Linked DNA regions of Homo sapiens. The protein of the gene in region 6 purifies or fractionates together with the protein of the main gene of each other region. This does not show direct contact. Each region holds a gene or a part of one and is shown on either strand. Other genes may lie near its edges. The genes, in order: MTHFD2, POGLUT1, FAM114A2, SPDL1, DNAJC13, DHX40 and PKN3.

Region 1 (4,170 bases), on a different chromosome or scaffold from region 6:
GCCCAGGAGTTTGAGACTGGCCTGGGCAACATGGCAAAACCCTGTCTCTGCTAAATAAATAAATAAATGAATGAATATATCCAGCTACATATGGAGGGGGATAAAGTTGATAGAAATCATTATTATCATTAATTTGAAGCTCAGGGAGTTTAAGTGACTGACAGCGCTTGGTCAAGCTGAGTCTCACATCAGTCTGGGCTCTTAACTGCTACACCACCCTGCGCCCTGATCATTACTAAGTGTTTTACAGTTTTAATTTGCAATTGTTTGACCCCTCACCATGAGGTTAAATAGTTTTTCTTATCTGCTTATATGCCATTTGTAGTTCGTGTTTTGTCCCTGTTGTTAGCAGCCAGGCATGTATTTCAAATCATTTCCCAGTCAACTGACTTCATTTTTATGGTGGTTTAAATCGATAAATTATATTCTGTAGTTGAATAAACAAACAATATAGGCCGGGCACGATGGCTCACGTTTGTAATCCCAGCACTTTGGGAGGCCGAGGAGGGCAGATCACAAGGTAAGGAGTTCGAGACCAGCCTGGCCAACACATGAAACCCTGTCTCTACTAAAAATACAAAAATTAGCTGGGCGTAGTGGTGGGCTCCTGTAATCCCAGCTACTCAGGTGGCTGAGGCAGGAGAATCACTTGAAACCAGGAGGCAGAGGTTGCGGTGAGCTGAGATTGTGCCACTGCACTCCAGCCTCGGTGACAGAGCTAGACTCCGTCTCAAAAATAAACAAACAAACAAACAACATACTGGACAGGTCAAACATCAAAATGACCACCACTCCCCACAGTCCCTTCTGGGGAAGACTTTCCTGGTAAGAATAGGGGCAGGGCAGGGGACTGGAGGAAGCTCCTTCTCACAGTTGGCAATGTGCTCTTCCCAGGGACCCCACCATATCATCCAAAGCTGACAGACCAGGAGTGAGTATGTGACGCCAAGGGCAACAATCTCTAGGCTGGCCAGTGGTCCAGTTGGCGCAAAAGCTTAGCTCAACAGAGCAGTGAGAGTTAGTTGAACCAGTAAGAGCTCGTCCCTGAGGCAGTTCAAACTAGAACCACAGAACAAAGACAGAAAGAATAGGCAGAATAATAGTCACACCAATGGGAGACAACAGGGCAAGAAATCAGAAAACTGTTGCTGAGGTGGGGAGCAAGAAGAAAAATCAGGATCTAGAAGAACCTCCAGTTCCCAAAACCATGTTCAGCTGCCCGAAAGGCTGTCTCTTCCCAAAGAGAACTGCTTATGCAACTCTTCCTGGGTTCCATGAAACCCAAATGTGGAAGAGTCCCAGTTTTCCTATTTTCACACATGTCCTTACAGTAAAGTGCCCATTACTTAAAGATGAGCATCTGGCCCAGCGTGGTAGCTCAAGCCTGTAATCCCAGCACTTTAGGAGGCCGAGGAGGGTGGATTGCTTGAGGTCAGGAGTTCCAGACCAGCCTGGTCAACATGGCAAAACCCCGTCTCTGCTAAAAATACAAAAATTAGCCAGGCATGGTGGTGCGCGCCTATAATCCCAGCTACTCAGGAGGCTGAGGCAGGAGAATTGCTTGAACCCAGGAGGCAGAGGTTACAGTGAGCTGATATCACCCCACTGCACTCTAGCCTGGGCGACAGAGAAAGACTGCATCTCAAAAAACTAAACTAAACTAAACTAACTAAACTAAACTAAACTAAACTAAACTAAACTAAACTAAACTAAACTAAACTAAACTAAACTAGATGAGCATCTCTTCCTTAAGTAAAATGATCCCATTAAAAAAAGCCTTTCCCTTTAGATCTCTGTCCTTGGTGTCATGAAGACTGCTCTAACCTCAAGACCAATGAAGTAATCTCCTCTTATATTCTAAAACCTAACATCAAGGTACTGAATATCCTGTAGGGTCAGATAAAATTAATTCTCAAGATAACTGCTAATTTATTTATTTATTTTTTTTGAGACAGAGTCTTGCTCTGTTGCCCAGGCTGGAGCAATCTCAGCTCACTGCAGCCTCCCAAGTTCATGCAATTCTCCAGCTTTTGCCTCCATAGCTGAGAATACAGGCACCCACCACTGCACCCGGCCAGTAACTGCTAATTTAAATGGGATTTTAAAGCTTTCACAATCTTTAGGCCTTCAATAAGTGTTTTTTATTGCATTATGATTAAATACCAACTTTAAACCAAATCTCAACATCTTAGATATAATGCAATAATCTTATATATAAACTTTATCTTAATCTGTATTGCATCTTGTGAAGTATTAAATTATTATAATCTGGCCAGGCACGGTGGCTCATGCCTGTAATCCTAGCATTTTGGGAGGCCAAGGTGGGCAGATCACTTGAGGTCAGGGGTTTGAGACCAGCCTGGCCAACATGGCAAAACCCCGCCTCTACTAAAAATACAAAAATTTGCCAGGCATGGTGGCAGGACCCTGTAATTGTAATCTCAGCTACTCGGGAGCTGAGGTAGGAGAATATCTCGAACCCAGGAGGCATAGGTTGCAGTGAGCCAAGATCACGCCACTGCACTCCAGACTGTGTAACAGGGCAAGACTCCATCTCAAAAAAAGAAAAAAGTTACAATCTTACAGCAAATCAAATACTTTTACCCTGATTTTATATAATACTAGCATGGCACAACATATAATAGCATTTAATTATACCCATGGTATATGAAGAAATTGAAAACATATTAATATTCACAATTCCATTTCAGAATTAGAGTCGAAGAGGACTTCATTAAAAGGGTTTTGCAGGCCGGGCATGGTGGCTCACATCTGTAATCCCAACACTTCGGGAAGCCAAGGTAGGCAGATCATGAGGTCAGGAGATTGAGACCATCCTGGCTCATATGGTGAAACCCCGTCTCTACTAAAAATACAAAAAATTAGCCGGGCATGGTGGCACGCACCTGTAGACCCAGCTACTTGGGAGGCTGAGGCAGGAGAATCGATTGAACCCGGGAGGCAGAGGTTGCAGTGAGCAGAGACTGCCGTGAGCGGAGATCGTGCCACTGCACTCCAGCCTGGGCAACAGAGTCAGACTCCATCTCAAAAAAAAAAAATTAAAATAGGGGGGTTTTGCTGATACAAATACACCTGGCAACATTCCTCATTCCTGATTTGTATTAGTACCTGGAATGCCCACCGCAGGCCAAAAATACATTCCTAATCCTGGAACACTACAGAGTGAAAGACTACTTTAAAACGGCTTAGAACAGTCATTTATGTTGAATGAAATAACAAACATATATAATGTGCCAGGCATATATGTTCAATAAAACTAATTTCTTACTCTTTTCTCTTGGTTTTATATATATATGTATATATACACACACATACACATGTATCCTTAAAATAGATACACTTACACATAAGGAGATATATATAAGTATATACACTATATGTATATCTAGTCAGTGAGAATGACTTAGCTTGCACCTCATAAAAAGTTTCTTTTGAAAGCAGTAAACTTAGAGAAAATGGTATTAGCACATTCAGATAAAATCATATACTGAAGTTAAGGACACAGGGTTCTGGGAAAAGCCAGTGTTCCAAGTCCCAAACTTTGCTTCCAAAAGCAGGTTCTGGATGTTATGCCAATTTGCTTAAAAAAAAAAAAAGAAAAGAAAGAAAAACAGTCAAAGAGTAACAAGAACCAAAAACAAAGTCACATGCAATGAATATCTTTCATAGTATAACTGTCAGCCCTCCTCTGCTTCCCACAACTCTGCAAAATGTGAAATACAGCCTTGGGAGTGAGTCATTAACTAATTTAGCATCATCTCTTTTGCCAAGGGGCAGATTAACTGCTACCCCAAAATAAACAGGGAAATGGAGAGTCAGCTAAGTCCCACGGGGAATCCAAAATTGTAACTATATTAGCTAACATTTATCCCAGAATTAAATGCATTCACAGATGTGTTTAGAAAAAATTCCCAGGGCTGGGCATGGTGGCACAGGCCTTGTAATCCCAGCATTTTGGGAGGCCAAGTTCAAGACTAGCGTGGGCAACATGGTGAGACCCCATCTCTACTAAAAGTTAAAAAAAAAAAAAATTAGCCAGGCATGGTGGTATGCTCCTGTGGTCCCAGTTACTCACAAGCTGAGGTGGGAGGATCACTTGAGCCCAGGAGGTCAAGGCTGCAGTAAGCCGTGATTGCAGCACTGCACTCC
Region 2 (4,170 bases), on a different chromosome or scaffold from region 6:
GGGGTCAGAAGTATGGATGAGCAAAATGAGAAGGGGTGTTATCACATATCTTTTGAAAGAAGTTTGAGGTTGGGCACGGTGGCTCACACCTGTAATCCCAGCACTTTGGGAGGCCGAGACGGGTAGATCACCTGAGGTCAGGAGTTTGAAATCAGCCTGGTCAACATGGTGAAACCCTGTCTCTACTAAAAAATACACACAAAATAATAGCCGGGCATGGTGGCAGGTGCCTATAGTCCCAGATACTCAGGAGGCTGAGGTGGAGAATCACTTGAACCTGGGAGGTGGAGGTTGCAGTGAGCTGAGATCGCGCCACTGCACTCCAGCCTGGGCAACAGAGTGAGACTCTGCCTCAAAAAAAAGAAAAAAGTTTAAAGCCATATGTTCCCCCCTTTTTTTTTTTTTTTTGATCCACCTGCCTCGGCCTCCCAAAGTGCTGGGATTACAGGTGTGAGCCACTACACCTGGCCTCCATTTGTTCCCTTTTTATGGTTACTTCTGTTAAAAATCTGGCCACTGATAAACCTCTAACTCTACTATTTCTTCCACTGGAAATACATGTGCAATATGCTGTTTGCTGTCTCTCAAATATGTAAAAAATGTGATTCATCAAGCACCTTAAACATAACAGCTATTCAATAGAAGCTGCACAATTAACTATAAAGTTGACAGAGTAAAACTCTCCCTTGGAAACTAGAAGTCACTGATTTAAAAAACAGAAGGGAAGTAAAGATGAACGGAAAGTTAGTATACCGACGGTCATACTTTATTATCCATAGAAACAACAGATAGATAACAAACACGAAGTCCCTACTGACTTACATGGGAGCCTCTATCTGTTCTTCTGAGTGAGTTTCATGACAAACAATGGAACCAAACACTTTCGAGAAATGAGGCTAGACCATGGGAAATGCAACACAAATGTGGCCTCTGCCCACTTGCAACACAGGAAATAAAACAAGTCTAGGGAGAAAGTAAACTATGATAAAGAAAAAGTGGGGATAAAAGGTCCCTCTGCTTTAGACAAACCAAATCAGAAATAGTGTTCCTTTTCCCAAATTTCATGGGGTTTTCCTCAATTCACTCTTACCCCATAGAATCTTCCATCCACTCTCTTCTAGCCTTCCTGCCTTCACCCCCAAATGCTTTCCTTGTCTCTAGGGAACCAAGGCCCATCCCTGCCGATACAACATTTACATGAACCTGAGCACTGACAAGACATTCCTTGCCCCCAATTCCCCAAGCCCACAGGTGTATCCTAGCTACTCCAATCTTCCATGATGAGTCTAAAAGATCACCCCCTTGCATAGCCCTCTAGGCTATCTCCAGCCTATCCCTTCAATGCACGGCTTGTACACACACCGTGTGGAGTTATCTGGCACCTTCAGGTTCACTTTTAGCCACCCTGGGCCCCCGGAATATGGTGACAGATGGGACAGCTGATACCCAGCACTATGGCTGAATATATACATAGTAGGAGCTCAACAAACTTTTGGAATGAAGGTGTTCCCTAACTCCAAGCTTTCTTGGACCCCTTCCTCCCATGCTCTGTAAGATCTTCAAGACCCACCTCTAATTCCTGTAGGTTTCTCAGGCCTCTCACGCCCTAGCCTCCATCTCTAGCCCTATAGACACTCAAGCAATCTTACACTACTTACCAGCTCTCAACTTCATCTCCTCTGTCTTTTTGCTCAATCACTGTGATGCTAATAGAGACACAGACCCATTTCTGGACCTCAGTCCTCATCCTTACCATTATCCATCAGACTATGTCACCGGACAAAGATCTCATGCTCATATCCTAGAGGACCACTCTCCATCCACCCATGTGGCTCTCCCTGTACTTACCTTACTGAAGGAGAAGACTGGGATGGCAGGCTCCATCCATTTAGGAACCTGAGGATAATCTCGTACATTGATCACCATCTCCATGTCAGGGAGACGCCCGATCACTTCCAAAATAAAGTGCTCAACACCACTACACCTGTCAACCAGACATACCATAAATTCAGCAGAGTAGTGCCTGCAGGCTCTAGGACAAGGCGAGGTCCCATTCACATTTTAAAGTAAGACAAGCCAGTGTTCCAGTGTTCCATATCATCAGTCTACTGCAAAGTCTCCTGAAAACAATGCTTCTAAAGGGGCTATTCTGCTTTTTTGTATTGTGCAAGTTCACTCATAGCTAAGCTGCTCCAGCTTACAATACTTAATAAAATTTTCCAAATAAATCGTCATAGCTTTGAAGGGAGTATTATTGCTACTTCTACCACTTTATTCATTCCAGTTCTTTTCTTTATTTCCCTTATATGGAATAGTTTAATTAGTAGACAAGATACAAACTCTCGTAATAGCTGAAATAGCTAATTTTCCACCTGTGTTCCTTTGGCTTTGCTCCTCACAAAGACACCATTTTTATTTCCATTATAATTAAGTCTCCTAGTTTATGAGAACAGATAGAAAACCTTTCATTACCTTCAACCTGAATAAAGAACATTATCAAAATCAGTTCTGCAAGCCAGAAAAAGTGTTATATACATAATCATAAATAGTGTAACACAGCTTTCTGACTAGATTCCCTGGGAAATCAGGGATTTCTTGAAAGAAAAAGAAGATACACTGACAGTTTAGCTTGTTTCTGCCTCATCCTCTGAGGTCCTGACCAGCACTATGCTAGGGGCAATATTCAAAGGCTTGATCAAAATTTTCTGGCAGCATGGAAATAACTGATTTAAAATATTGTTTTACTACTTGGGAGACTTAGGCAGAAGGGTTATTTGAGCCCAAGAGTTCTAGACCAGCAACATAGTGACACAGTAGGCAATGTAGTGAGCTCCTCTAGCCAAAAAAAAAAAAAGTGTTTTTTATATAGGGAGATAACTGCAAAAAATATCAACAGTTCACAAACATAGGAAAAGATGCTCAACTGTATTAATAATAAAGAAATGTCAATGAAACTAGATACCAATTTTACCAATCAGATTGGCAAAGATCAAAAAGTCCAATAGTGCAGTGTTGGTAAGGGTGTGAGATCTATTCACAGCATATGATATATCGGTTGTGGAAGTGTTTAGCCTCTTTGTAGGACAATTAGATTCTATTTACCAAGATTTCTCTTTTTTTAAGGTTTTTTTTATTTGAGGCAGGGTCTCTCGCTCTGCCACTCAGGCTGAAGAGTGCAGTGGCATGATCATGGCTCACTGTGGCCTCAAAAATCCTAGGCTCAAGCAATCTTCTCACCTCAGCCTCCTGAGTAGCTGGGACTACAGGTGTGTGCCAACACACCTGGCAACTCTGTATGTGTTTGTGTGTGTGTGTGTGTGTGTGTGTGTGTGTGTGTGTGTGGAGAGACAGTCTTGGTATGTTGTCCAGACTGATCTTGAACTCTTGGGCTCAAGTGATCCTCCCACCTCAGCCTCCCAAAGTGCTGGGATTACAGGTGAGAGCCACTGTGCCCAGCCTGTTTATCAAGATTTTTTTTTTTTTTTGAGATGGAGCCTTGCTCTGTGGCCCAGGCTGGAGTGCAATGGCGCAATCTCAGCTGACTGCAACCTCCACCTCGGGTTTCAAGTGATTCTCCTGCCTCAGCCTCCCGAGTAGCTAGGATTACAGGCACAGGCCACCATGCCCAGCTAATTTTTTTATTTTTAGTAGAGATAGGTTCTCACCATGTTGGCCAGGCTGGTCTTGAACTCCTGACCTCAGATGATCTGCCTGTCTCAGCCATCCAAAGTGCTGGGATAACAGGCGTGAGCCACCTCACCCAGCCTATTTATCAAGATTTTAAAATGACATTAATTGCCCTAGTTATTATACTTTTAGGAATTTAGCCTACATATATATTTACATGAGTGTTCACAGTAACAAGGATGTTCACTGCAGCATTGCTTGCGTTATCCAAAAAGCAAAGTGATGTGGTAAGGGATAATCTAAATGTCCACTGATAGAGGGCTGAATAAAGAAATCCATATAATAAGTTATTATGCAGCCATGAAAAAGTGAGGCATTCTCTATGGACTCTTATGGAACAATCTCAAAATCTACTGTTATATGGAAAAGAAATCTAAGTGCAGAACAGAAGACAGCATGTTTTATTTTGTTGATGAGTCTAGATGCTTGTAAATGTACAGACTATTTCTAGAAGGATATACAAGACACAGAATTCTAATTGTC
Region 3 (4,933 bases), on a different chromosome or scaffold from region 6:
ACTTGTGAGGGTGAAGTGACAGCTATAATGAATCTTTCTTTGCTTTTAGCTCAAAGGACAAATGAGTTGAGAGAATATTCAGATTTTTAAAAAAATTGTCTTTAGGACTTGCCTGGGGAAATGATAATTAAACATGAAGGGCCTTTGGGATTTGGCTGGACGATACAGTAACAGGGAAGGATGGGCTTCAAGTTAAGTAGGGAGGACCGAATGAACTAGTGTTTGAGGAACATCAAGGATATACTCAGAGAGTCAGACCAGTGGGCAAGTTTTCAAAATTCTCTTCATACAGTTGCCAGAGGCCTTTATGACATGTTAACTAAGAGGCTTATTATTTTTAGAACTTTCTCATTTCTCAAATGCTTTTTAAGTCTTTTATGAAAAGAGATATCATGTGTTGTTAAGAAATAATAAAAGGGCCAGGCACAGTGGCTCACGCCTGTAATCCCAGCACTTTGGGAGGCCGAGGCAGGTGGCATCATCTGAGGTCAGAAGTTCCAGACCAGCCTGACCAACATGGAAAAACCCTGTCTCTACTAAAAATACAAAATTAGCCAGGTGTGGTGGCACACACCTGTAATCCCAGCTACTCGGGAGGCTGAGGCAGGACAATCACTTGAACCCAGGAGGCAGAGGTTGCGGTGAGCCGAGATCACGCCACTGCACTCCAGCCTGGGCAACAAGAGTGAAACTCCATCACACACACACACACACACACACACACACACAAAGAGATAATAAAACAGCTCAGTCTCTGACATTTGTGAAATATCACACTTGTTGAGTGCCCACTGTGGGTATAATTTTATTCTGGGTTTTCTAAACTGAAGAATTCAGGTTTAAAATTCAGAACACCTCTAGAAATACAGAAAAATGTCTATTTCTCAAATGGAGATATCAATAGCAACTACCTATAAAATAGCTCTCCCTCAAAAAGGTCTTTCACTAAAAACAAGTACAAAAGAAAGCATCCTTTTTCAGCAGTAGGAACCCACAAGATCTTGTTCTTTGATTACAGGATTGAAAAATTCACATTTGTACACCTAGCACTGATTTCAGATTCATAGTAATGCCATCTATAAAAATTACAATTTCACATTTCAGAGGCCTGCCAACCTGGATATCTATGCTTAAAAAAAAAAAAAAAAACTATCAAAAGCAAGTAAGGAAAATATAGCTTGTCCTTAACACATTTCTAAGGTATTATGCAAAGGAAAATAAAAATTGTTTCATAGAGGTTTCTACTTCTTTCAGATCAAATTAATAAAGTCTCTCTTAATCACAGCCTTTTAAAATCTCAATAGTAGGAAAAGACACATTTACCCTAGCAATACCTGAACATTTCACTTATTAAGGTTTTAAGTGAATTGGAAAGGCATATATTAGTAATTAGTGGTAAATCTTAGACACCAAAAATTTAAAAGGAAAATAGTACCAAAAGTGTAGCTGTTAACAAAAAACTAAAACACTGTAACTACCCCAAATAAAATAATGAAGCACATACTATCCAAAAACCATCACCATAATCCAGCAAGTTCCAAAGTGATCCCTGAATTTACCTACTCATCTGTCATGAATGTTTATGTTTCTCTATGTCTACTGGATCAAGGAATCTTAATTCTTTTTCAGTATATTTTATGTGAAGAGTAGACAATTGTTACTCAGAATTGGGCCTTTCATCATTTCACTAGTGGTCCCTAACTCCATTAAAATAAATAAATATATATGGGGGGGTGGGGAAGATGAGAAAAAAAGAGTTAGTGAGTCATATTTACCTTATGTGAGACCTAATCTAAAATTTGCCAAATTCAGGGCTGAAATCTGAATAGGTGTATAAAAAGAGTTGTTACTCTCTCCTTCATATGTATACCCCATTTCTTGAAAGAAAAACCTTAAATACATTTCTAGGTTAAGGATTTAAAGCTGCCAAACTGCCATTGTACAAGAGGCTGAACAGACAGTAGGCAGAGTGACCAGTTTCTAAACTTTGCCCTCAAGGGATACAGGTTCAGACACATCAACCAAGCTTGAGGCAACAATTCAGAACTGGTGACACCAGCCTTTGTAACCAGAAGGCAACTGTTTTTCTGAAACTTCAGAAATATTCAAGCTGGAAAGGGTGAAATTTGTCTTTAAAAAGGAATATTCAAAAACTTTCTGATCATATTAAGACAGAATATAGGCAGAGTAACATTGTAGTGCTGTTGGTATACCTTTTTAAACCAAATTTATTTCTCTTCCTTGCTTACTAACTGACTCCTGCCCCAAAGAAGATTACGTAGAAACAGTCTTTATACTAATCTATGTTATGGCTTTGCTTTGCTATTTTTTTTTTTTTTTTTTGGTCTAAGTAAGATATTAGGGCTCGTGTTTACAAAAGTAAATGAAAGGATCAAATAACATGATTAATACATTTTATTACAAAGGTTTTAGAAGATGAGGGGCAGAGCTAACAAATTACCTTAATCATTAAAAAACCACAAAGTTGGAGAATTTTTTTAAAAAGAGTGGATACCAAAATAGCTTTTAGGAAGACGACAGCTTAATAGTCTCTTAAATTGCTGAAGAGAGCAAAAGAAAGCTTAAGATCTGGAGGATAAAAGTTATATCAAAAACATGCTAAAGAATACATTAAAACAAACAAAAAGGAAAGAGGAAAAAATAAACTATGCCTTAGAAGTTAAATCCTATCATAAATGAACATCATTTCTAAAGGACTATGGCCCACTTCAACACTCAAACAAAAAAATCCTCATTGCTAAAACAGCTTCAACATTCCTTTGGAGTTTGCTGTTAAAGAATTTATCCTGCATATATGGTAGACACGAAACACATCCTGAAGAGACTCAGAATATCTGCAAACATAAAACTGCTTCTCTAAATTGCATTTACTGGCCTTGAATCCAGTAGAGTAGGGTTCAGCTATGACATGAAGTGTGTCATCCTGGGGAGGGGGAGCAATTTGAAGAAAAAGGGCACTTTGCTACAGTTAATTCACATGGCTATAATAGTCTACAAGTTTCTCCTCAATGCCAAATATCTACTAAGAATTTAAAAAAGCAGATGAAACTTTCTATTTCCAAGAATTCATGTGATAAAGGGTAATCATCACAGAGTTTACATATGCTCAGTTTTCTTAAAGCCATAGATTTTATTCCAGAAAGGAGAAAGTACATGGCATTAATAAACCACACATGCCATGAATTTTAGAACACTAAATTATTTTTCTCTGGCTTATCAACCAGTTATATCCATGGGCTGCAAATTATATCCATGACAAAATTGATAACATTTTGCAACATGTCAAAGAAAGACCAACATTTTTGCCTGAGTGTCCCACTAATCTTTATCTAGAGTTATTATTCTTGGACTTTCTACAAAAGTTTCTTTTCAAATAATTTATGAATTACAACAACTGGAAAGAATACTGTGAGAACCTGAATACTTCAATCAAACACTGAAGGCAACAATCTTCCTCTTTAAACCATCTCTCCTGCCTGAATTTTTATATACTAAAATAACCCCACTCCTTCATTTCTGCAGGAGTAGCCAGAATAAGGTGGCATTCCTTGGCCGTCACAAGTCCCAGGTCAAAACGTCTCCATTCTTCAATGTTCTAACAAAGGTTTCTGGCCCTGCAGCTCATGTCTGTGTGATTCAATCTTGTTCTCAATGAGAGAGATCTCTAGCACAGGTAAGAGTAGCTGAAAGGCGTCCTGGATGTAGGAGGCACTGTTTGATGCCTGCCAGGATTGAAAAAACAAGAAAAAGAAAATATTAGTTATTTAAAAGAGAAGATATACTGTAAGGCAACAGGGGAACAGATTAATTTTTGTAATCTAACTGAATTCATAGCCTGGCAAGTAAGAGCAGTGACTTGGCCATTTTGGTAAACTCTATTATAGGGAGAAGAATTTAGCTCTTAAGATGATATGAGCACCAAAAGAGAATGTCAGCATTTTGTACAACTTGCCCATCAGACATGGTAGCTTTTCTTTGGCAACATGGTCAGACTTGGCATTCAAAGCTTATTTATTCCTTTATTGAGTAGGGTAGATTCTGTCACAATATTGTGGTCAATTACTGAAAGAGGCTTTCAGAAGGCTATAAATCCTACACCTATAGAATTTCTAGCCCATTATGATAGCTCTTTTTCCATGGACTCAATGCGATCAGTGAGCACAATAACTGCTCACACACATAAACATCTTTCACACATATACTGCTTTCAAAGATGACAGTATAGATATATTTCTATCTTGAACAACATTTTTCAGAAGTGTTAGAGAATCATTACCCTCAGTTTGCTGGACTTCATTTATACTGAAAAGCCCTCACCTTTCAAAAGAATATCAACAGAGAGCTCATTAAGATAAAAATGTATAATTTCGAAGACAAGAGTGTTTCAAATCTGTATCCAAAAAAAAAATCCACTAAAAATAATAGGGAGCCCATATCAAGTGATATTACCTTTTTAAAATTTATCAATGGCAAGTACTATTTAAAATTCAGTGTGACATTTAATACTCAATTTCCCACACAAAAGGGACCTCAGATATCGTCTAGTTAAATCTCTTATGTTGCACATGAAAATAACGAAGTTTGTCAGAGTCACACAACAAATCAAGGAAGATCCAGGGCAACACGGGGCTCCTGGTTTACAAAGTCTTTTCTACTGCACCACTCTGCCATTTACTAAATCACAAACTTATATTTTTAAAAATTATTACAATGATCAAAATAGTTTCCCTGACTACTTGATTAAAACTGTGTAATTAAAGAATTAAAATCATTTCCTTGATGGTAATGTCAAAAGAATTTAAAACTAGAGAAGTAAGAGTTTGGTAGTTAAAACATTTTTTCAATTAACATCTAAAACTTAACTATCAAATATATTTTCTCCCCCCAGACTTACATAAACATGTTTTAAACA
Region 4 (4,170 bases), on a different chromosome or scaffold from region 6:
CCATTGGTGATTCTTGCCTGAAACATAATTCTGTGATGATTGCTAAATGGGTAATTCCATCACTTCTTCTATATTTATTAGTTGGAATTTTAGTAAAGGGACAGAAAAGAAAAATCTTTTTCCTCACTTACTCATTCATTTATATCAGTATAGCCTCATGGATTCTTATTTTATCCTATGAGTTATAATCCATTGCTTGCTTTATTTACTCTGATACTCAAATTGTCCCAGATTTGATAGTCGAAGTGCTCTTACTTGAATATTTCCTTACTCTATGGCACAACAAGGGTTTCCTAGCTCACCTGGCCCACTTCTGGGATTAGCATTTCTTCAAGGAACATTGGTTTATTTTAGTTGAGAATGGTATTTGTGTAAGCATTTGTGTGTGTGTGTGTGTGTGTGTGTGTGTGTGTGTAAGAATTCACCCATGTTTTCTAAATAAGTAGGCAGTTGTCCCAGAGTCATTTGTTAAAAAATCAATCTTGATCCCAGTGATTTGAGTTGACACCTTTATCATACATCAAGTTTCCATATATACTTGAGTCTGTTTCTAAATTTTCTGTCTACGCCATTGGTCTGCTTCTCTGTGTGTCTGTACCACACTGTTTTATTAATTATAAAGGCTTTTAAGTATGTTTATCTGGTAGGACTATTTCCTCACTATACTTTTTATTTTTCAGTATTTTCCTGTCTATTTTTGAATGTTAGCTTTCATTTACAAACATCTTGTCTAGCACCAAAAAAAGCTTGTTGGCTTTCTATTAAAATTGCATGCAATTTAAGATTTTATAAATTGACTTAGGGAACATTGATATCTTCATTAACCTCCTAATGAACTAAAGTTCTAAATGACAAATTTTTGTAAATGTTAATAACCTCTTAGGCATTCTAAATTGTAGCCATTAGTATGTCATAAAATCTTAATTAAGTTTACATAACTTTATTTCTGTGTCTTATAAAAACTGTTGAAAGAACTACAAATTTGGTTAAGTTGGCAGCCTTATGTTTCCATCAGTGGGCTCAGAACTATACTCTGAAAATTATGGCCTTAAATCAGGGGAATTTTATTTATAACCTGAAATTGTTTCAAGTTTTTAAGCAGATTTACCTTTTCTATCCCACTAGAGAAATGTATAGTTTCCATCAGTCTCAGAAGAGCTTGCACTACATTCTTGCCTGGGGTGGGGGGAAGAATCTCAGAAGAGGGGGACACCAGATATAAATGTAAGGCTCTCATCTTCCTTTCATATTTTTCCAGTTTATGGTTTTGTTACAAAGGCCAGAATTTAATCCAGCAGGCATTTGTTTTTCTATTTTCAAAGCCAGGAGAGAGAAGGCAGAGCATGTAGGTAAGGCTAGAAGCCTAGGCCTTGTAGTCAGATTTGGGTTCAGGTTCTCTCTTCTTGGTTTACTTTCATCTGTATTCGGAGCCTGTTTCCTTATCTGTAAGAGAGGAATGTTAATTATTTACCTACTTCAGAAGGCAGATAAATTAAATGGGTAGTTCTTAGCGTAGTACGCCAAGGGATATAAATTCAGGAAGTGATGGTGCTATTATTAATAAACATACACTAACCTTATTTGTTATTTATTTTAAGTAATACAAACTTTTGCTTTTTTAAGAATTTATATGACAGTATGGAATCTAAGCCTTCAGTCGACTCTGGTACTCTGGAAGATAACACCTATTATACAGATTTACTTCAGATGAAGCTGGATAACTTAAAGTAAGTGTCTGGGTTGGTGGATGGAAAGATGAACATGTCACTTGCTTACTATGGTAGTGTCAGTGACTACAAAGTTTTTTTGAAATTGCCAAAGGAAATTTTCCGAAAAGAAAGGTAACAAAAATATCTTTGTGCAGATATTCATGTGTGAATACATTTGAAAGACTATTTCCTCCTTTGTCCATTTCCTTTCAAGAATGCATGAGTATTTTTTAAATTTAACACTACTATTGTTAAGGATTATTTAAATTGTTTATTGTTTCTTTGTTACTAAAAACCCCAGAAAAATGTATTTTTAACTAAGAATTCAAATATGCGATGAAATATTTATACCACTACACTTATTATATGCTGTCTTAATACTCGTTGGTTCTCCTTTTTTATTATCATAGCAAAGAAATTGAAAGCACTAAAGGTGAATTGTCCATACAGCGAATGAAAGCATTATTTGAGAGCCAGCGGGCTCTAGATATTGAGCGAAAACTTTTTGCAAATGAAAGATGCCTCCAGCTTTCAGAAAGTGAAAATATGAAACTGAGAGCTAAACTAGATGAATTGAAACTAAAATATGAACCTGAAGGTATATATGTCTCATATATTTTTGTCTTTTAAATTATGAGTAACCTGAAATTATATCAAATTATTTTCTTACTGTAGTTTTATGCAACTCTATTACAAACTCATTTGTAGTTATATACCTATAGTTAATAAAGCAAATTTATTGTGTAAAATAGGTAGGAAAATTCAGGGAGAACTGGATACTGGGTGTGCCTGAATATAACATGTATCCTTTTTGGATATCTAATTTCATCATACTGTATAGTAGAAACTTGAGATTTGAGACTTTCCCATTTTAAGATTACAGTATTTTATGTCATACCTAATAGTTTAATTATGTTGAAGCAGCTGATGTTTGGAAGCTATACGAGGTAGGACTGTTTATAGAAAATCTAAAGTAATGGAGACTTTAAAAAGGTGGGTCTTTATCTCTGCCTCTGATGGAAGTCTGGAGGAGGCCTTCCAGGACTGGGAAAGCACTCCACGGTATCAAGATTCAGGCTTCTTGTGTTTGTTGGTCTGCTGCCATCCTGTGGAGCAGAATTTAGTCATGCAGCCTCACCTGCTGACAGGAAGGGCTGAGAAATGCAGTCTTGATTCTCAGGGGCCATGTTCCTAACTAAATATTGGGAATTCTTTTATTAAGGAAGAACAGTGAGCCAGGCGTGGTGGCTCGTGCCTGTAATCCCAGCTCTTGGGGAGGCAGAGGGAGGAGGATAGCTGTGCCCAGGAATTTGAGATTTGCTTGGGCAATATAGCAAGACCCCATTCTCCACCAAAATGGGGGGGAAAGGAAAGAACAATGAAACATATTAGGGAATATCTAGCAAGTCTAATGACTGAGCTGGAAAGTAGCCTAACCATACAGTCTCTGCATCTTATATACTACAGAGAGTGAAGTTTACTGTATGTAAATTCAAAAACAAAAGGCCAAGTGTGAAGGAGTCTAAGAATGTGATGGTTCTACAACACCCCTTCCCTAAAAGAGTGTTACATGTTTTAGGTTAAGGATTCTCAACAAGTTTTTGTCCCCGCACTCTGCACATGCCTCAGTCTCTCTTCGTATTGTCTCAGTGAACTGCTATGATTCTCAACAATAGTGGGGAGGTTGCCAAAAATAGGAAGGTTTTTACACAATTTTAAAAGGCTTCTCTTGCTCTTAACTCTTTTTGTTTCTTCCATGATTCTAATAGGCTCCCCTGATTAAGAATTATCCATTATGAATTTCAAACATCTGTTGAACTGAACACAGCAAATAGACAGGAGGCAGGGTAGTGAATCCTGATAATGTGGGTTTCAAAGGAGCAGTGCCAGAAAAAGGGGAAATCATGGTCTAAAAGCAACAATGTAGAGCAAAAACAGCAACCCCTTGTGCTACCAGTGTTCCTCAGACTCCACTAACATTTTGATTTTGAAAATGAAACACATCGATAATGGGCATAGGGAAAAGATATTAGAGCAGTTAATTCAGTGGCTGTGTTTATGACCTGTTTAGATAGAATGATATTAGGCCATGAGGATAGAAGGCATTGCAGTAGTCTTTGATGAGACATGATAGGATTGGACTAGGGAAGTATCCATCATAAAAGTAGTCTGATTCTGCTTATATTTTGTAGGTAGAGCTAACAGGCATATATTACCAATATTCAGAAAGTTTGGCCTATTCTTGTCATTTAATCCTTCTAATACACAATACCAAGTGAAGTGGGTGCTTTTAATCCCCATTTTACAGATAAAATGAAGCTCAGAGAGGTTAAATAATTCCCCAAAGACATGGCTGTCACATACGAGGATTAGGATTCGAACCTGGACTCTGCCGCTGTCTCTTCATCTCCACACTGAGATCTTATGAACCACCTTTTTCAAAACACCAAGAGAGAACAGT
Region 5 (4,170 bases), on a different chromosome or scaffold from region 6:
TTAAATGGCATATGAAAGCCTATCATAACTTTAAAAGCCTCTGAAGGTTAAAAACACCAAGAGCATTCAGATTTTTTAAAAGCAGTAGAAACTTTTCAAATGATGATATACTTCTCATACGTTCTATTTCCTATTGTAGCTCTCAGGACCCTCTAGTCCTGTGGGACAGTTTGAAGAACACTGGTATAGATGAAATAGGTGTAATTTCAGATTACAGGATTATCCAGTGTTTGTGGGGCCATTTGCAGTAGCCCTAACAGTAGCAGTCAGAAAGCCAGGAGTATGTTCAAAACATCCCCCTTTGTTGGGGATGAGGGGTTAGGTTCAATATGGCAGATGCCCAATGGCTTGGGAACTGAACTTGACTTACAGCACAAAGTGGGAGAGCCATTTGCTATGGTATGTTGGGAGAGAAGGAAGAGGACTTTCAGGATTTGAGATAAGCATGGAGAGTGTTGGGTAACTAAAGACAAGAGATGGTGTTGCAGTTTAAGTATTGGAGGGGACAACCTGAGGATCTAGCAGTTGGATTATTAAAGAGAGCAGTGATTAGTTGATTTACTTTTACATGAGTTTAACAGAATACGTTTATAATACATTTTAGATATATGGCTTTTACTAATCAGAATGAGTTTGGAAACCTTTTTCAAAACCCTTGGTTGTCTTTTAATGCTGATAACTAAATTATTAGCCACAAGATACAGTTATGGCCCATCCTGGTTTCTCTGTTATCAAGGTCATCTTTAACTTTTCCCAAGAGGGGTTTATACCCAAGAAGCTCTGAGGTGGAGGTCCTGATCTGACAGGACTTAGTTATTCACTGTTCTTTCTTATTACGTATGTGTCACTTTTTTTTTTTTTAAAGGAAAATTAGGACCTGTTCCAGGGGGCCTTTTTTTTAAAAGCCAGTTTAGAAATGAGTTTTAAGGCAGATTATTGGTCAGCCTCAAAAGTCAAAAAGATTTATGCTGATTTCAATTGGAATTATAGAGATACTTTTAAAGTCACAGCCAATTAATTTGCATCTCTTTGCCTAATAGGTTAGATTGAAAAAAGAAGATGGAAAGAACAGAGTAATTAGGCATGTAGGTTTACTAGCTTTCACTTTTAAATTTGGTTATTAAAACATGGAATTAACTAAATGTAGTTTAAAAGTTAACTTTCTGTTTTGTACTTCTAGTAAGAAATTGTATTATTTTCAAATTTAAGAAAATACTGGTAAAACTTTAAGATAACTGGTAAAATAGATACCAGTTATCTTTAAGATAACTGGTAAAATAGATACTGGTAAAATAGATAAACAAGGGCACTTGTTATCCAGAAAACTTAATATAAAATATTCAGTGTCATGTAAATGTCTTCTCAGTCTTTTTTCTTTATAAAGATGTGCATATAATTGATATTAATAGAATTTCTGGTGCATTTGCTGTACCTTGCGTTCTGTGATGAGGTGAAAAGTTACAAAGATCAGCATAGAAAGTAGGTATTCTGCAAAGGATCAAAACTATACACCAAGTGCAGTTAATTTACCAGAAAATGTTATTTTTCTAGTGGAAACATTTTAGAAAAATCAACCAAGTTTACTAGAAAGGAAGGATCCAAGGGATTTTATAGTAGGTTTAATTTCTTTTTTTATCAACTGGCATTAGGAGGCATTTAAGATGTTAAGATAAAATATTTTATCTTTTTTTTTACGTTTTATTTTATTTTATTTTTATTTTTTTTGAGACGGAGGCTTGCCCTGTCGCCCAGGCTGGAGTGCAGTGGTGCCATCTCCACTCACTGCAAGCTCCACCTCCCGGGTTCACACCTTTCTCCTGCCTCAGCCTCCCGAGTAGCTGGGACTACAGGTGCCTGCCACCACACCCGGCTAACTTTTTTGTGTTTTTAGTAGAGAAAGGGTTTCACTGTGTTAGCCAGGATGGTCTCAATCTCCTGACCTCGTGATCCACCCACCTTGGCCTCCCAAAGTGCTGGGATTACAGGCATGAGCCACCATGCCTGGCCCCATTTTTATTTTTTTAAGGCAACATATTCTTGAACATGGTATCAAAATTGAAACCACAACATAATCAATTTTGTTTTGTTTTTCTAACACTAACCATTGGTTATTTCAGATTTACAGCCTTATAAATATGCAGGATACCCCATGCTTATTCGGACTATAACAATGGAAACTTCAGATGACCTCCTTTTCTCAAAAGAATCACCATTGTTGCCTGCGGCTACAGAGCTAGCTTTCCATACTGTCAACTGTTCAGCCCTCAATGCTGAAGAGCTCAGAAGAGAGAATGGACTAGAGGTAATACGGAGTGACCTTTGTGCTTTTTAAGCCAGTTTACACACATTATATGACTCTTGGCAGTGAAGAATTCAGCAAGTACAAATGCAGATTCTTTAATTTATTTCAGCAGATAACACAATATTTTCCATATTCTTATACCAAATTAAAGGTAGAAATGGAGCTTTATTTCACAATGTGAGTTGGAAAGTATTGGGTTCAAAACCGATAATGGTAATATTGTTTACAAAGTAGCTTATTAGAAATGCTTAAAAGGAAACTTTTAGGAGTCCTTTGTTTACTATTTATTAACAAATGTTGATCAAACATTTATGTATCAAATATTTAACATTAAAGGGTTATTTATATTTTATTACTGCTAGAAAAGGCCTTTCAGACTTGAAGTCAAAATGGAGAGTTAATAGCTGACTTCTTCCTCTGCAGGTGTTACAAGAGGCATTTAGTCGCTGTGTGGCTGTCTTGACTCGTGCTAGTAAACCAAGTGACATGTCAGTACAGGTGAGGCTAAAACCTGTGGTTCCAAGAAAATTGCACTAGTTCAATGGTTCAGACTTTAACATATCTGAGAATCAACTGGAGGGCTCATTAAACTGTAGGTTGCTGAGCTCCACCCCACCCCAAGTTTCTGATTCAGTGAGTCTGGGGTGGTGGCCTGAGAGTATGTTTTTATAACAAGTTTCCAAGTGTCATTGATGCTGCTGGTCTGTGTATCACACTGTAAGAAACTGTACTAAAGCACTTGTGATCTGTTGGCTTACGTTTTCTTTCTTAGAGAATAGTTTATTGAACCCATATGTTTCCATTACCCAGCTTAATGCCATTCTTGTTTCACATATCTTCCATCCCTCACTCTCCTATCTCTAGTATTTTAATTGGCTTAACATTTAAGGTTGTAAGATAGGAAATTCATCAGGAGTTCATTAAGAGCTTTGTAGAGCGTGTCTTTCTATTTGACCTTTTGCTTATGCCAGCAAAATTCAGAATATAAAACGAGTACTGGCTGTTGAGTTCCATCCTCTATTTTGAAGTCCGTTGTGTAAACAGAATTGTGATATTCTGCTATGTTAATAAACTATACAAAATTACCTTAATCCAGAGGCCAGCAAACTTCTAAAATAAAGGTCCAGGGAGTAAATATATGAGTCTTTCAGGCTTCATACAGTCTCTGTTACATTTTCTTTTGTGACTTTTTTACAGCCCTTTAAAAATCTAAAAACCATTCTTAGCTCTTTGGCAGTACAAAGACCATGGTCAGTTTGGCCCATGGGTTGTAGTAGCTGTGGTTTGCCAACTACCCCAGCATTTATAGGAAATCTTAATGAGAAAGACTAGTGATCTAGTAAAGACATTCTGTTTAATTTTGGAACATTGTATATACCATTAAGCATTATTCACAAATTTCTGCTGGTTTGATTTCTATGTGTTAAATAAGGAATGCCTATGTGACTCTACTGGTTTTTTTGCTCTGTTGTGTTGTCTGCAGGTGTGTGGATACATAAGTAAATGCTACAGTGTGGCTGCTCAGTTTGAGGAATGCCGAGAGAAGATCACGGAAATGCCTAGCATCATCAAGGATCTCTGTCGGGTACTATATTTTGGCAAGGTAGGGTTAATCTTTAATGCTTTCTAGATACAGACAGCAAAGTGTCTTTTTGTCAACTAGCCAGTTCCTAATGTATAAGCACATTGTTTTCCCAAAGTTATTTGTAAGTAAAATTATTTGGATTTCTAAAAGCATTTTTCACAGAAGCCTTGCTGTAAATGGAGGCTTTGCTTCTAGGCTGGCCTACAAAGAAAAAGACTAAAGTGATACATCTAAAGGGAAGTGGGTTCCATCTGAACATTAGAATGAGTGGCAGGGAGAAAAG
Region 6 (4,170 bases):
GTTACTCAACAAGCATTAAAACAGGGTGAGAAAAAGGTCCAAAGGGTAGGAATAACAGCAACGACATCCATAAAACAAGGGAAAGAAGAAAGAAAAAACAGTGACCACTAGGAAGGCAAAAAGATAGTATTTTGGGGAGTCATCTTGTGCCACATTTGATGGCCATTCCCATTAGGGAACATATGTAAACCAGGGATCGTTTTGTAGCTGGACAGGATTAAGAAATCCACAGGGAATGTAAATTATAATATTCACTATTAAAAAGAAAATTTTAAATTTGTTGGTGCCATGAATATAGAAGATGCTTTAACACTTGCTGATTTTGTTAATTGGCTGATTTTGTTAATTCAGCTTTCCATTGACTTCAAGAATACAAACACATAAAATAAATCAACCTGAAAACATGCTCAGTGAAATAAGAGTGACACGAAGTACAAAATATTGTGTGATTCCACTTGAATGAGGTACCCGGAGTAGGCAAATTTGTAGAGACAGAAAGTAGAACAGAAGATACAGCAGGGCGCGGTGGTTTACCCTGTAATCCCAGCACTTTGGGAGGCCGAGGTGGGCAGATCACAAGGTCAGGAATTTGAGACCAACCCCATCTCTACTAAAAATACAAAAAATTAGCTGGGCGTGGTGGCAGGAGCCTGTAAACCCAGCTACTTGGGAGGCTGAGGCAGGAGAATCACTAGAACCTGGGAGGCAGAGGTTGCAGGGAGTGGAGGTTGCGCCACTGCACTCCAGCCCGGGCAATGGTGTGAGACTTCGTCTCAAAAAAAAAAAAGAAGTTACCAGAGGCTAGGGGGAGGGAGAAATGGGGGTTTTAATCTATAAGAGTTTCTGTTTGGGATGATAAAAAAAGTTCTGAAAGTAGAAATGGTGATGGTTACCCAACATTGTGAACACATTTTTTTTTTTTTTTTGAGGTGGAGTTTTGCTCTTGTTGCCCAGGCTGGAGTGCAGTGGCGCGATCTCAGCTCACCGCAACCTCCGCCTCCCGGGTTCAAGCCATTTTCCTGCCTCAGCCTCCTGAGTAGCTGGGATTACAGGCATGCACCACCGTGCCCAGCTAATTTTGTATTTTTAAAAGAGACAGGGTTTCTCCATGTTGGTCAGGCTGGTCTCGAACTCCTGACCTCAGGTGATCCACCCGCCTCGGCCTCCCAAAGTGATGGGATTACAGACGTGAGCCATCGAGCCCAGCCCATTGTGAACATACTTAATGGCACTGAATTGTATACCAAAATAGTAAAATGGTCGATTTTAAGTTATATATATTTTACTACAATAAAACATTTTAAAAACCTACATGTCAAGAATCCTTACAGTTAAAAAACATAAATAAGAGAATCCTAAGAAAATAAACTGTCATTTATAAACTAAGGAAGGAGAAAATGGGATGAACATCAGACACTTGAGAGCTAAAGCATTAACAATGAACAACAAAAATAAATTCTTTAAAATATATATTGAACTTTGAAGTTAAAAATCTTTCAGAACTCTCTCCACTCTTTCTGTTAAGTTTATAACATTAGCTGGGCATGGTGGCATGCTCCTGTAGTCCCAGCTACCCAAGGGGCTGAGGTAGGAGATCACTTGAGCCCAGAAGGTAGAGGCTACAGAGAGCCATGATTGCGCCACGCACTCCAGGCTGGGCGACAGAGCAAGACCCTGTCCCATAAAAGAAAAGAAACAAATACCAACAAGACTTTTGTACCTTAGAACTGCAATCATCAAAACGAACTTGGTATCCTACTTTGGATCCCAAAGTGCATTTCATTTCTTCAGCTACTCTCTGAGCAACTGATATAGCAGCTACTTTTCGTGGTTGAGTTACACCAATCATACCATGTTGTGAAAACCCTATCAAAACCAGAGATAAAGAAACACAACAATGTTAGCAATTGTCTTCCTATTAGAGCTAAATTGTTTTTGGCCAATCAACACAAAACTGCTTGAATGTTTCCAAAAGAATATCTCGCAAATTAAAAACACACTGCTATGTTTGCATCATGGAAATTTAAATATTAATTTAAAATAATACATATTAATAACCATGCAAAAATATATTATATATATAATATATAAATATATATAATATAAATCCAGTTTATATTATATATATTTATATATTATATATATTATATACTAATATATATTTAATATATAATATATATTATAATATATTATATATTATATATATTAATATATAACATATTATATGTATTATATAATTTATAATATATTATATATAAATATACATTATAATATATTATAATATATACTATATATTATATATAAATATACATTATAATATAATGTATATTATATATATTTAGACAGAGTTTTGCTCTTGTTGCCTAGGCTGTAGTGCAATGGCGCAATCTCGGCTCACCGCAACCTCTGCGTCCCAGGTTCAAGCAACTCTCCTGCCTCAGCCTCCCGAGTAGCTGGGATAACAGGCATGTGCCACCATGCCGGGCTAATTTTGTATTTTAGCAGAGACGGGTTTTTTCCCTGTTGGTCAGGCTGGTCTTGTACTCCCAACCTCAGGTGATCCACTTGCCTCTGCCTCCCAAAGTACTGGGATTATAGGCTTGAGACACCACGCCCAGCCAAAACAAAAAAAAAGAAAGAAAAAATTATATATATATCTATATATATATATAGATATATATATATTTTTTTCTTTTTTGAGACGGAGTATTGCTCTGTTGCCCAGGCTGGAATGCAGTGGCGCGATCTCGGCTCACTGCAACTTTCACTTCCTGGGTTCAAGCGATTCTCCTGCCTCAGCCACCTGAGCAGCTGGGATTACAGGCGCTTGCCACCAGGCCCAGCTAATTTTTTTGTAAAAAATATATTTTTTAAATTAGAATTCAGGCTTTGTCTGTTTTTTTCTGTCTAAAAATCTACTCTAAAGGTAAGCCAAGAATTTTGAAACATAAGAATTCATAAAATTCCACACACTTCCCAAAATAAATTTACTTTTGCCACAAGAGTAAAACTGGATTTATTTATTTATTTATTTATTTATTTATTTATTTATTTTTGAGATAGAGTCTTGCTCTGTTGCCCAGGCGGGAGTGCAGTGGCACAATCTCGGCTCACTGCAACCTCTACCTCCTGGGTTCAAGCAATTCTCCTGCCTCAGCCGCCTGAGTAACTGGGATTACAGGTGCGCGCCACCACACCCAGCTAATTTTGTATTTTTAGTAGAGATGGGGTTTCACCATGTTGGCCAGGCTGGTCGCAAACTTCTGACCTCAAGTGATCCATCTGCCTCAGCCTCCCAATGTGCTGGGATCACAGGCATGAGCCACTGCACCCAGCCTAAAACTGGACTTAAATATGCCACCTTTCTGCTGGGAGCAGTGGTACACACCTGTAATCCCAGCTACTCAGGAGCCTGGCTACTCAGAAGGTTGAGGTAGGAGGATTGCTTGAACTCAGGAGTTTGAGATCAGCCTGGGCGACATAGTAAGATCTCATCTCAAAAAAATAAATAAATATATATATCTATATTTATATATATATATATATGCACCTTCCATATACCATTTTAATATATTTGGGAATGGAGCTGCATCTTAAAATCGATGGCGCATTTCCATTCTTACTAATACAGTAGTCCCTCTTTACCTTTGGTTTTGCTTTCCAATTTTTCAGTTACCTACAGTCAGTGGAGGTCCAAAAATGTTACAGTACTTTGAGAGACAGAGAGAGACCACATTTACAAAAGTTTTACTACAGTATATTGTCATAACTGCTCTATTTTATTGTTGTTGTTGTTAATTTCTTACTATGCCTAATTTATAAACTAAACTTTATCAAAAGTATGTATGTATGTATAGGAAAACACATAGTATATGCAGGGTTTGGTATTATTGGCAGTTTCAGGCATTGAGTGGTCTTAGAAGGCATCTCCCAAGGATAAGAAGGGATTACTGCACATAAAATAGTGATATATCTTAATAGATGGCACCTTAGATTGAAGCATTAGAATAATACATTTGTTATTTTTTAAGGCAAATCATATCCAATATAATACTGCTCTTTACAAACCTTATGACAGAAAGTTCTGTCATACTGAATGACACTTGTCAAAAAACAAAATTACAACAAATTTATTTTATTTTTATTTATTTTTTTTGACACAGAGTCTCA
Region 7 (4,170 bases), on a different chromosome or scaffold from region 6:
TCAAGCAATTCTCCTGCTTTAGCCTCCTGAGTAGCTGGGATTATAGGCATGCACCACCAGGCCCGGCTAATTTTGTATTTTTTAGTAGAGACGGGGTTTCTCCATTTTTGTCAGGCTGCTCTCGAACTCCCGACCTCAGGTGATCCACCCACCTCGGCCTCCCAAAGTGCTGAGATTACAGGCATGAGCTGCCGTGCCCAGCCTAATTTTTTTTTTTTGAGACGGGCTCTCTGTTGCCCAGGCTGGAGTGCAGTGGCGCGATCATGGCTCATTGTACCCTCAACCTCCCTGGGCTCAAGCAATCCTCCCACCTCAGCCTCCCAAGTAGCTGGGACTACAGGTACGTACCATCATACCTGGCTAATTTTTTTATTTTTTTATTTTTTTTTGAGACAGAGTCTCGCTGTGGCCCAGGCTGGAGTGCAGTGGTGCGATCTCGGCTCACTGTAGGCTCCGCCCCCCGGGGTTCCCGCCATTCTCCTGCCTCAGCCTCCCGAGTAGCTGGGACTACAGGCGCCCGCCACCACGCCCGGTTAATTTTTTGTATTTTTAGTGGAGACAGGGTTTCACCGTGTTAGCCAGGATGGTCTCGATCTCCTGACCTCGTGATCCGCCCGCCTCGGCCTCCCAAAGTGCTGGGATTACAGGCGTGAGCCACCGCGCCCGGCGATTTTTGTATTTTTTGTAGAGATGGAGCTTTGTCATGTTGCCCAGGCTGGTTTCAAACTCCTGGACTCAAGTGATCCACATGCCTCACCCTCCTAAACTGCTAGGATTATAAACATGAGCCACTGAGCCAGACCAGAAAACTCTTTCTTTTTTTTTTTTTCTTGAAAGAGTTTTGCTGTGTCACCCACGCTGGAGTGCAACAGTGCAATCTTGGCTTACTGCAACCTCTGCCTCCCAGGTTCAAGCAATTCTCTTGCCTCAGCCTCCCCAGTAGATGGGATTACAGGCATGCGCCACCACGCCCGGCTAATTTTTTTTGTTTCTAAAGATGAGGTTTCACTATGTTGCCCAGGCTCGTCTAGAAATCCTGGGCTCAAATGATTCGTCCACCTCAGCCTCCCAAAGTGCTGGAATTACAGGCTTGAGCCACTGTGCCCAGCCAAGAAAACTTTCTTTTTTTCTTTTTTTTTTGAGACTGGGTCTCAAAAAAACTCCTGAGCTCAAGCAATCTTCCCACCTCAGCCTCTCAAAGTGCCAGGATTATAGGTGTGAGCCACTGCACCCAGCAATTTTAGTTTAATTTTATTATTTTTTTTCCAAGGAAATTATTATTATTATTTTTTGAGATGGAGTCTTGCCCTGTTACCTAGGCTGAAGTGCAGCGGCGCAATCTCAGCTCACTGCAACCTCACCTCCTGGGTTCAAGCAATTCTCCTGCCTTAGCCTCCCGAGTGGCTGGGACTACAGGCATGTGCCACCACATCCAGCTACTTTTTTGTATTTTTAGTAGAGACAGGATTTCACCATGTTGGCCAGGCTGGTCTTGAACTCCTGACCTCAGGTGATCCGCCCACCTCAGTCTTCCAAAGTGCTGGGATTACAGGCATGAGCCACCATGCCTGGCCCAAGAAAACCTTTTTTTTTTTTTTTTTTGCGACGGCGTCTTGCCCCGTCGCCCAGGGTGGAGTGCAGTGGCGTGATCTCGGCTCACTGCAACCTCCGCCTCCGGGGTTCAATCAATTCTCTGCCTCAGCTTCCTGAGCAACCAGGATTACAGGCACCCGCCACCACGCCCGGCTAATTTTTGTATTTGTAGTAGAGACAGGGTTTCACCATCTTGGCCAGGCTGGTCTTGGAACTCCTGACCTCATGATCCACCCACCTCAGCCTCCCAAAGTGCTGGAATTACCAGCGTGAGCCACCACGCCCAGCCTAGAAAACTTTCTAACAGTCCAAGCTGCCCAGTGCTGGGTATCAAGCTTTCCAGGGCTGCGAGCTTCCTAACACCAGTGCTTTAAGCATTATTCTGGTTATTTATGTAAATACAAGCTACGCTGTCCGAGTGCTGACTGTGCTAGGCACTGTGCTTAGCACATCACGTGCAACACAGCAACCCTATGAGGTAGGTGCTATATCATCCACATTTTACAGATGGATAAACTGAGGTTTGAAGAAGGAATGTCAGTTTGCCAAGGTCACGCTGCTAGTGGGTGCTGGGGCAGGACTGGAACTCTTGAACTCTTCATCAGAGTTGTTTGTGCTTCCGGCCTCCCCCCAAAAAGAAGGAGAGCTTTGAAGGGGGAGGAACTTCTGACTACCTGTTAGGGCGGTGGGCTTCACAGGTGTCCCTGAAGGCTGGGGGTATCCAGGCACCGCAGCCCGCAACTCTCGGGTCACTCTGCTGCGCAAAGGGTGGGCAGGAGGCAGTTGCTCCAGCAGCTGCTCCAAGGCCAGGCGCAGGAGGTCCAGTTTCTGAGAGGACTCCTGTAGCTGGGCCTGGGCCTGCAGAGGGGACAACGTAGAGCCAGGTTCGTGGGGTATATGGCAGGGGGCAGCAGCCCAGGTCACCCGGAGCCACCTTCCGCATGAAGTCTCAACAGAGAAGTCCTGCTTTTACACGGCCACCCTCCCTTCACACCCCTGCTGAGGGTGGTATGGGAACAAGCCAGCCTTAGGAGAGGGCCAGGGCTGGGGCCTGACCTCAGCCAGTGCCTTGCGGTCCTGTGTTCTCCGGCTACTAAGCAGTTTCACCACGTTCTTGGCGCCCTCAGCCACAGCTGCCTCAACGTGCAGTCGATGCTGTAGCTCCTCCGCCAGCAGCTCAGGCCCTGTGGGAAGGACGGCGGCTCTCAGGCCCTGCTCTTCCCTGCTCCGCCCTCCCTGTGTCTCAAGGCCTCACCTGGCTCCGGGGACCCACTGGCCTCCAGGCTGCTGATCTTCATCCGCAGCAGGGCCACCTTCAGCTGGCTGTCCCGCAGCATCTGCTGGGCAGCTGCCAGGAGCTTCCTCTCCTATGGAGCCATAGCACAGGCCCATCAGACCAGGCCTGGGCCACAGCTTCCCCCATCAGACCAGGAACTGGAGCCGGGTCTCCCCCATCAAAACAGGGTTAAAGTGAAACCTCTAGGCCAAACACTAAAGTCAAGCCTCCCTTGTTGGACTAGTTGGTGGGTCAGGGGAGCCTTTTCCATCTGACCAACAAGGGCTGGGGTCAAATTTCCTCTTTCATATCACGGCTGGGGTCATGCCTCTCCCATCAGATCAGGGCTGGGGCTAACTCTCCCCCATCAGATCAGGGCTGGGGCTAACTCTCCCCCATCAGATCAGGGCTGTGGTCATGCCTCCCCCATCAGAGCAGGGTTGATGCTTCCCCCATCAGATCAGGGCAGGGGCTAAGCTAAGCCTCCCCCATTAGATGAGGGCAGGGGCTAAGCTAAGCCTCTCCCATCAGATCAGGGCTGGGGATAAGCCTCCCCCATCAGATCAGGGCAGGGGCTAAGCTAAGCCTCCCCCATTAGATCAAGGCTAAGGTCCTGCCTCCGTCATCATATCAGGGCCACAGCCAAGTCTTCTTGTCAGACAAGGACTGAGGCCCAGTTCTGGACATCATGCTGGGAGTTGGGACTGGGGCTGGGCTAGGATCCCATTAGACCAGGGCAAGGCCTTCTCTGTCACACTAGAGACTACAGCCATGCCTTCCTCACCCAGCTGGGGTTTGGGGCTGTATTTTCCCCATCAGGCTGCAGGCTGGAATGGTGTCTCCTTATGAGCCCAATGGCTGAGGTGCATTTCCCTGTCAGACCAGGGGCCAGGGTGCTCCTGCCATCAGACTGTGGGGCCTTACCTTGGGGGTGCCACTGGCGCACGTGTGGGTCATGTTCTCAGCCCCCTGCTTCACCTTCAGCTCCACATGCAGCTGCCTCCGGAGAGCCTCTAGGTGCCGAGCCCTGAGCTGCTCTGCCCACGGCCGGGGTCCTGAGGCCACAGGCTCTGTGCACGGGGGTATCGAGCACAGGAGTCCCTCACCCAGAGCCGAGACCCCCACTGTGGCCTTTCCTCCTTCCCCTACTGATCTATAGGCAGGAAATGAGGTGGTCTCGCCACAGTGGCCAGGGCCAAGGCCAGGGGCCAGATGGGCCTAGAGCCTTCTGTCCTGAGGGGGTCTCAGCTCCTCACTCACCAGCTGGGCCAGGCCCAGGGCCGGGCAGCAGGATTCGGGCG

Evidence for each region.
Region 1: the proteins of DHX40 (region 6) and MTHFD2 fractionate together in Homo sapiens (co-fractionation; one large-scale study listed by BioGRID). This does not show direct contact.
Region 2: the proteins of DHX40 (region 6) and POGLUT1 fractionate together in Homo sapiens (co-fractionation; one large-scale study listed by BioGRID). This does not show direct contact.
Region 3: the proteins of DHX40 (region 6) and FAM114A2 fractionate together in Homo sapiens (co-fractionation; one large-scale study listed by BioGRID). This does not show direct contact.
Region 4: the proteins of DHX40 (region 6) and SPDL1 fractionate together in Homo sapiens (co-fractionation; one large-scale study listed by BioGRID). This does not show direct contact.
Region 5: the proteins of DHX40 (region 6) and DNAJC13 purify together in Homo sapiens (affinity purification with mass spectrometry; one large-scale study listed by BioGRID and IntAct). This does not show direct contact.
Region 7: the proteins of DHX40 (region 6) and PKN3 fractionate together in Homo sapiens (co-fractionation; one large-scale study listed by BioGRID). This does not show direct contact.

Annotation. Positions count from the first base shown.
Region 1 is NC_000002.12:74,201,406-74,205,575, reverse strand, and holds part of MTHFD2 (bifunctional methylenetetrahydrofolate dehydrogenase/cyclohydrolase, mitochondrial isoform A precursor), read right to left. Parts: exon of another isoform or gene 4,097-4,170; intron 1-4,096. UniProt on the Homo sapiens protein: Although its dehydrogenase activity is NAD-specific, it can also utilize NADP at a reduced efficiency.
Region 2 is NC_000003.12:119,475,127-119,479,296, reverse strand, and holds part of POGLUT1 (protein O-glucosyltransferase 1 precursor), read right to left. Parts: intron 1,985-4,170; coding exon 1,849-1,984; intron 964-1,848; exon of another isoform or gene 823-963; intron 121-822; exon of another isoform or gene 1-120. UniProt on the Homo sapiens protein: Dual specificity glycosyltransferase that catalyzes the transfer of glucose and xylose from UDP-glucose and UDP-xylose, respectively, to a serine residue found in the consensus sequence of C-X-S-X-P-C.
Region 3 is NC_000005.10:153,989,368-153,994,300, forward strand, and holds the end of FAM114A2 (protein FAM114A2), read right to left. Parts: intron 3,744-4,933; coding exon 3,609-3,743; 3' UTR 781-3,608; downstream 1-780.
Region 4 is NC_000005.10:169,596,853-169,601,022, forward strand, and holds part of SPDL1 (protein Spindly), read left to right. Parts: intron 1-1,623; coding exon 1,624-1,727; intron 1,728-2,119; coding exon 2,120-2,307; intron 2,308-4,170. UniProt on the Homo sapiens protein: Required for the localization of dynein and dynactin to the mitotic kintochore.
Region 5 is NC_000003.12:132,497,009-132,501,178, forward strand, and holds part of DNAJC13 (dnaJ homolog subfamily C member 13), read left to right. Parts: intron 1-2,117; coding exon 2,118-2,302; intron 2,303-2,725; coding exon 2,726-2,800; intron 2,801-3,785; coding exon 3,786-3,905; intron 3,906-4,170.
Region 6 is NC_000017.11:59,568,214-59,572,383, reverse strand, and holds part of DHX40 (probable ATP-dependent RNA helicase DHX40), read right to left. Parts: intron 1,867-4,170; coding exon 1,721-1,866; intron 1-1,720. UniProt on the Homo sapiens protein: Probable ATP-dependent RNA helicase.
Region 7 is NC_000009.12:128,705,503-128,709,672, reverse strand, and holds part of PKN3 (serine/threonine-protein kinase N3), read right to left. Parts: coding exon 4,130-4,170; intron 3,940-4,129; coding exon 3,794-3,939; intron 2,961-3,793; coding exon 2,849-2,960; intron 2,778-2,848; coding exon 2,650-2,777; intron 2,452-2,649; coding exon 2,268-2,451; intron 1-2,267.